Homo sapiens: one gene and its partner. The protein of the gene in region 1 binds, or shares a complex with, the protein of each later gene. Each region holds a gene or a part of one and is shown on either strand. Other genes may lie near its edges.

Region 1 (3,944 bases):
AAGAAAGGGGGAAAAATCCTTAAAGATACAGTCTTAGTTTTACAGGAAATATTCACCGGCCCATTAGAAACTAAATTACTAATTCAGTGCACTGAATAGATGTGAAGTCATCTAACATTTCATATATCTAATATATCCTTTAGAATAGCTTCCACTTGAGGACTTTTGCTTTAATTACTCAAGATTCACTATGGCTCAACAATTAAGCCATATTTTCTAATTAACTTTTTTTTTTTTTTTGAGACGGAGTCTTACTCTGTCACCCAGACTGGAGTGCAGTGGTGTGATCTTGGCTCACTGCAACCTCTGCCTCCCAGGTTCAAGCAATTCGCCTGCCTCAGCCTCCTGAGTAGCTGGAATTACAGGTGTGTGCCACCACGCCTGCCTAATTTTTGTATTTTTAGTAGAGACAGGGTTTCACCATGTTGGCCAGGATGGTCTCGATCTCTTGACCTTGTGATCTGCCCGCCTCAGCCTCCCAAAGTACAGGGATTACAGGCGTGAGCCACCGTGCCTGGCCATCTAATTAACTTTTAAAAGGAATATGAGCAGGAGGGCTCTGTGAAGTCTTGGCTTTATTATGCTACTAAAGAGGAGGCATGTGGTTCTAACATATGAATAATAAACAGTAATATTTTAAACTTTTTTCTCTTTTTTAAAATTATTTTTCAGGCCGGACATGGTGGCTCATGTCTGTAATCCTAGCGCTTTGGGAGGCCGAGGCAGATGGATCACCTGAGGTCAGGAGGTCAAGACCAGCCTGGCCAGCGTGGTGAAACCCCGTCTCTACTAAACATACAAAAATTAGTAGGGCATTTTGGCACACGCCTGTAATCCCAGCTACTCAGGAGGCTGAGGCAGGAGAATCACTTGAACCTGGGGGGTGGAGGTTGCAGTGAGTCGAGATTGTGCCACTGCACTCCAGCCTAGGCAACAAGAGTGAAACTCTGTCTCAAAAAAAAAAGAAAAATTATTTTTCTTTTTTATTGTTATTGTTAGAGATAGGGAAGGCCTCGCTATGTTGCCCAAGCTGGTCTTGAGCTCCTGGGGTCAAGCGATCCTCCCACCTTGGCCTCCCAAATCATTTTAAACTCTTGATTATAAACTTAAATCTTTACTAGTACTTCAGATACTGGTATATAATAGGTAACTAAATTAAAGTTAAATTCCCTTCTCACGTAAAGTTTAAGTTTCATTCAATAACTCAATTTGGGGAGAGGAACAAAAGATCAATAATTTTTTCAAACCTACAGAAATAACTATCATCTCCTATGTTAACTGAATTTATGTTCATGAAAAATCAATGAGTTATTCATTCCACAATTATTCAACCAAGTATGAGCTCGCTGGCTAACACAATGGGATTTGCAATGGGTATGAAAATGAGTTTCCAGGCCGGGCACGGTGGCTCACGCCTGTAATCCCAGCACTTTGGGATGCCAAGGCGGGTAGATCACGAGGTCAGGAGATGGAGACCATCCTGGCTAACACGGTGAAACCCTATCTTTGCCAAAAATACAAAAAATTAGCCGGCCATGGTGGCACACGCCTGTAGTCCCAGCTACTTGGGAGGCTGAGGCAGAAGAATCACTTGAACCTGGGAGGCAGAGGTTGCAGTATGCCGAGATCATGCCACTGCACTCCAGACTGGGTGACACAGCAAAACTCCGTCCAAAAAAAAAAATGAGTTTCCACACTTTGCTCCAAAGATAGTAACACAGACCATATCAAAGAGAAAAGAGAAAAATACTTGTATTTACTAATATTCTTGTTTTTCCTATTTATTTTAATAATGTCATTCAGCATAAGAATGAAGCAGTATTCCTCATTAATAAAATTTCCAACTGAAGTATTCTTTTCATTTAGTAATTTTCAATGGAATTACTCCCTTAACTTCTTAGTACACAGAAAAAAGTTTTTAACTGCAGGTGACATACATTAATGACTGCACTATGGTGCTCAGGCACTTCTCACTAAGGAATACAGAGCAAGGGTGATTTACCCTCATTTTTTTTAGCCCTGGGCAGCCAGGCTTTTACAGAGCACAATTCTTACTTTGTCTCCATGTCTTGCATATATACGTTCTGGTAACTTGTCGAGTCCAGTTAAGTCTCCCTTTCAGAAGGTTATTAATGAATAACTTAAATCTGTACACAAAAGTATTTGAATGGGCTCTGATTTGAGTAACTTATCTCTCCTGAAAAATAAAGAGCCAGTGAAACAGTTCTTTCCCTTACTACGCTTGCACTTTCCTTTGCACTTTCTTCAGTTACTTCTGTGTTTAAGGCTGTACGTCAGTCTAGATGGTAAAAGGTATTAGCAATCTGTCAAATAACTTGAACAGTACTCTACTGGTGGTCACCATCTGAAACACCAGGGACCTGCAACAGGAAGAGTGTAGTTCTGGCAGGCTATTGTTCAGTAATTCAAAGGCTTAAGAGAAACCTGTCCTTTACCTGCAACAAAAAGCTAAAAAGATCAGGTCTCTGCCCATTAGCTTCTGCTCATCATGTCCTCTAACTATATTTGACCAATTTTGAAAACAAAAGATTATCAATCAACCCTTTTCAAAATTTATTTAATTCAATAGATAAGAAAAGAGATTTAAAGGGGATGGGAGAACTTGAAAGAAAGTCTGGGGAATCACTACAGCGTGCACATTATTTTAAAATAATAAGTCATATTTACAATGTCCTAAGACTCCAGGCTAGCAATTTTTTCTTTAACTATGTTACAGTAAAAAGTCATCTAATAACTATTTCACGATGTTCTAAAATGAAGGAAGAGTTATAATTATTTTCTTGTATTTAGTTCAAGTCACTTACCTATCCATTAAAGCATCTTCAAGTAACGGTGTTACGGCATAAATGTAGTCTTTTCCCATTTCACCAATATATTCAAACAAGAAGGAAAGCGATTTTAACACTCCATTTTGAACATTCAGTTCAGGAACTCTGTATTCATTCATTAAGGCAGGGAGTACTGTAAAGGGTGAACATGTTTCTGCAACAATAGCTATTGCTACAGTGGTACAAACTCTGTTCTGCCTTTCTTGAACTTTGAGGTTGTTCAGAAGTGTAGCCAATACATCATGAGGGCTGAAAAAAACAAATGGGTCAACAAGCTGTTACATTATAAGTCAAAAATTTATGGAAGAAAAAAATGCATAAAGATGAAAACTTTTAAGTATTAATAATTACAGGGAACTCAGTAATTTTATAAAATGCAATACTTTCAAGTCACTGGCATTGTTGTTTCTATATAAAAATTTCATATAAATTAAAAGGTCAGTTTAAAAAAGTTGACTCTGAGAAGATCAGAGGTCATAGCTGTACAAATTCTAAACATTTTAAGTTAACTCAATTTTCAAATGTAATTTTCAGTTCTTAAACTTTCTGAAATATAAAGAAATTTAACTAAATGTTTAAAGTGAGTAATTCTCTGAGTTGTCAAAATGGGCACTAGAACTAGGTAGGAGTGGTGAGGGGAATATCCGAATTGTAGTCTCCCATTATAAACCATATAAAATCTCTTTTCCTTTTATCTTTCCTCCACACAATTTGCTGCATCTATTTGCCTCTTCTTTGACATAAACTTAGAGGGACATTGGGGCTAAAAGCTTGCACAAAAGCTATTCTTGCAAATGTCTTGACTCCATCACCACTGAAATAAATATTATGCTACCAAAATAGGAGAGGAATGAGTATGTGTTAGGGGAGGGGGTGTTGTCTGGTATAATTCTACCTAATTAATCAGACATTCACATGTCATATTCCTTGAAAACATTTTCTTAAGCCACATGGACATGTGGTGTCTCGTTTTCTACAATGACTGTTTTTTCCTATTTTAGTTGTGATGGAGTGGAAGCAAACCACCACAGATTATCTCACAAAGCAGCTATAATTCAGTTAAATCCGTGGAGTAATGTTAGAATAGCATTTTTG
Region 2 (3,600 bases), on another chromosome or scaffold:
CCAGCACTTTGGGAGGCCGAGGTGGGAGGATCACCTGAGGTCAGGAGTTCGAGAGCAGCCTGGCCAATATGGCGAAACCCCGTCTCTACTAAAAATACAAAAATTAGCTGGGCATGGTGGCGCGTGCCTGTAGTACCAGCTACTCGGGAGGCTGAGGCAGGAGAATCACTTGAACCCGAGAGGGGGAAGTTACAGGGAGCCGAGATTGCACCACTGCACTCCAGCCTGGGCGACATACCAAGACCCTGTCTCAAAAAATAAGCAAATAAAATAATAAAGTGAAGTAAAAAGGGGTTGTCAGGGTGGGCCCTAAATTCTGCTTGGCGTCTGTGTAGAAGGGGAAATGTGGGCACAGACGTGATGCAAGGAGGACAAGGTGACGCTTCCACAAGCCAAGGAACCTGGAGGATACTGGCCACCACTAGGAACTGGGAGATTCCCCTCGGCCTCAGAAGGATTCGGCCCCACCCACACCTTCATCTAGGATTTCTGGCCTCCAGAACTGTAGAGAATGTTTCTGATATTTAAGCCACCTGGCCTGTGGAATTTTGACAGCCACTCTGGGCAAACTAGCAGGGACTCCATCTTTCCCCGCAGAAGGGAATCTCTTAAGACCCAGGAGAACACCCCCCTCTCACTCCTCCTACCCCCACCTGGGATTTCCAGCCCGGGGCCATATAACAATGCTAGACCCATGCTACTCTTGGCAGCTGGGGAAACGCTTTGGGTGGGGCTGGCCCACCTGCCCTGTAAGTACAGCCTGGGCCCACAGGGAACAAAGAGCAGAGTCTGGGAGGGACCCAAGCTTAAGTGGACTCGGCAGGTGGGAAGGGTGGTGCCCGCCAGGAGAACTTGACCTTGAGCTGCCCGTGGACAATGCACTCTTGTGTTTGAGGAGGGTGGCGCCAGGCTGGGGACACAGAGGAGACCTTGGGCGCCCGGGGAGGGGAAAGTGCGGCGCTGCGGGTGCCCCGGGCTGCGGGAAGCGCCGCTGGCTTCCCTAGCCCCACTCACTGATGGAGAAGGTGCCGGGCTCTTCCCGGACGACTCTGCAGCGCTCCAGCAGCAGGGCTCCGACGGGCTGGAGGAGACACGGGCGCCGGGACGGGGCAGTGAGCACCCGGCCTCCGAGGGGCCCAGCCTGGGACCCGCCCGCGCGCCCGGGACGCCCCTACCTCGGCCTCGTCTGTCCGAAAGTAGAAGAGGAAATTCACCACCAGCTTCACCAGCCGCCGCTTCAGCACTGCGGGCACAGCGCGCACTCAGGGGCGCAGGCAGCCCCCGCCCGGACCCCGGCCTCCCGTCCCCGGCGCCCCGACCCGGACTCCGGCCTCCGGCACCCCCGCCCAGACCCCGGCCCCGGCCTCCCGCCCCTGGCACTGTCTCGGTCTCCCGGGTCCCGCTCACCGCTGCCCTTCTTGGGGCCCCTCATGCCCAGCTCGGCCGCCATCTCGGCCGGCTGCCGGGACAGAGCCTGCAGCTCCTTCTCGTTGTACCGCATGGCTCCGCGGGGAACGGGAACCCGGGCCGCGCCCTCCCGGCCGCCGTCCCCGCTCAGGCTGGGGCCGGCGCCAAAAATGTCTCAGGGCGCAGACACGGAAGCACCCCCAGGGCTAGTGCGCCTGCGCACCTTGGGCCAGCCATGCCGCCCGCCTCCGCTGCGTGGCGCTGGCGACCCGTGGCTGCTGGCGTGGGCGGGGTACCGGTTGGTAGGAGAGACGGACCGTTGTTACATAACCATTAAACTGAAATAAACCGGACCAAGGTGGAACAGAATCAAGGCACCCCAGCGATGGCTGGCACCCCTTTCTAGAGCGGCCAGGCGCAGGCGGAGGGAGCGATAACGTCGCCCGGAGAGTGTCAGCCGCTCCCTCGCGAAAGTTGGCCCCGTGCGGCCGCAGCGGACCGAGGGTTCGTTGAGAGCGTTGTGCGCACGCGCAGTTTGCCTTCCAGGCCGCGCTTTCAGCCTCTCCCCCTCCAGCCTTTTCCTTCGCGCCTCGGGACCCTCTGACTCACGCCGCTGGGCGGGCCAGGCATGCGCACACCAGAGGGCCCGTCTCATTTGCCCCGGAAGTGCTTTCTTTGCCCGCCGTTCGCCAAACGAAGTCGTGGAGGTGGCGAAACGAGGAGGAGATAACGCGGCCTTGGGCTCTGGTGAGGAGTAGAGGCGGTTGAGGGCGGCGGCCGACGCGGACCGGGGGTTCCCTGGGGGACAGCGGACGTAGGAGAGAGGCGCTTGCGACAGGCCGCGGGCCGAGGGTGGGGCGGCGGCGTCGCTCCCCTCCCTCCTCCCGTGAGCGTCCGGCCTTGTGCATCCTGAGGCCCCGCGCTGGGCGGGCCTGGAGGGTCGGGCCCGCCAGGAACTCTATTTCCAAACTCCTGTTGGGAGGCCGCGCGCGGGGCCTCACGCCTGTAATCTCACTGCTCAGGGAGGCCTTGGCGGGAGGATCGCTTGAGGCCAGGAGTTCGAGACCAGCCTGGACAACACACCGAGACCCCCATCTCTACAAAAAATTTTAAAAAATTAGCCAGGAGTGGTGGTTGTACCTGTAGGCCCAGCTACTCGAGAGGATCGCTTGAGCTCGGAATGTCGAGGCTGCAGTGAGCCATGATCCCACCACTGCACTCCAGCCTGGGCAACATAGCGAGACCCCATCACTGCAAAAAAAAAAAAAAAAAAAATTAGCCGGGCGTGGTTGGTGACGCGCGCCTGTAGTCCCAGCTACTCTGGAGGCTGAAGCGGGAAGATCGCTTGAGTCCAGGAGGTCGAGGCTGCAGTGAGTTGTGATTGTGCCGTTGCACTCCAGCCTGGACAACAGAGCAAGACCCTGTTTGACAAAATAAAAAAGAAACAACCAAGATTCGTTGGGGTCGAATCGGGATCGCGGCTGAAATGGTTTCGGCCGCCTTCCTTGTAGCCGAGAACGCTTCTGTATGCTCATCTATACCTGTTAGTTGACTGGGGCTCTGTGATGTAATTCCTGTGAGCCTCAGTTCCCTTAAAATGGGAGTGACGGCTTCAACATCATGCCAAAGGCGACCAGAACACGTTAGCTGGCCCCATTTTGCAGGTGCACCCCGCTGTGACCGTTGTTCTTGTGTATCCTTGGACGACACCAAACAGCCAGGCGGAGCTCTGGAAAATAGGTTGTTGGCTAGGTTAAGGAGAGAACGGTGTTGCCACGAAAAACTAATTCCTTCTCAATGGTCTAGTCCCAGGTCCCAGAGGCCACTTTTCCTCAATTCTTAAGCTCATTTCCCCTGGTCGTCATCGGTTTTTTGTTTGTTTTGAGACAGGGTCTTGCTCTGTCACCCAGGCTGGAGTGAGTGCAGTGGTGCAATCACAGCTTACTCCAGCCTCAAACTCCCATGCTCAAGCCATCCTCCTGCCTCAACCTCTCGAGTAGCTGGGATCACAGGTGCTCACCACCATGTCCGGCGAATTTTTGTATTTTTTGTAGAGACGAGGTTTCGCCATGTTGCCCAGGCTGGTCTCGAACTCCTGACCAGGTGATCCACCTGCCACGGCCTCCCAAAGTGGTAGGATTACAGGCATGAGCCACTGCACCCGGCTAATTTTTGTATTTTTTGTAGAGATGG

What was found.
Region 2: SF3B1 (region 1) and SF3A2 share a complex: the UniProt entries of both Homo sapiens proteins name them as parts of the 17S U2 SnRNP complex.

What each region holds. Positions count from the first base shown.
Region 1 is NC_000002.12:197,393,231-197,397,174, forward strand, and holds part of SF3B1 (splicing factor 3B subunit 1), read right to left. Parts: intron 3,099-3,944; coding exon 2,826-3,098; intron 1-2,825. UniProt on the Homo sapiens protein: Component of the 17S U2 SnRNP complex of the spliceosome, a large ribonucleoprotein complex that removes introns from transcribed pre-mRNAs.
Region 2 is NC_000019.10:2,234,748-2,238,347, forward strand, and holds the start of SF3A2 (splicing factor 3A subunit 2), read left to right. Parts: upstream 1-2,076; 5' UTR 2,077-2,154; intron 2,155-3,600. Other genes in the region: PLEKHJ1 (pleckstrin homology domain-containing family J member 1), read right to left, coding at 1,015-1,081, 1,176-1,243, 1,408-1,501. UniProt on the Homo sapiens protein: Component of the 17S U2 SnRNP complex of the spliceosome, a large ribonucleoprotein complex that removes introns from transcribed pre-mRNAs.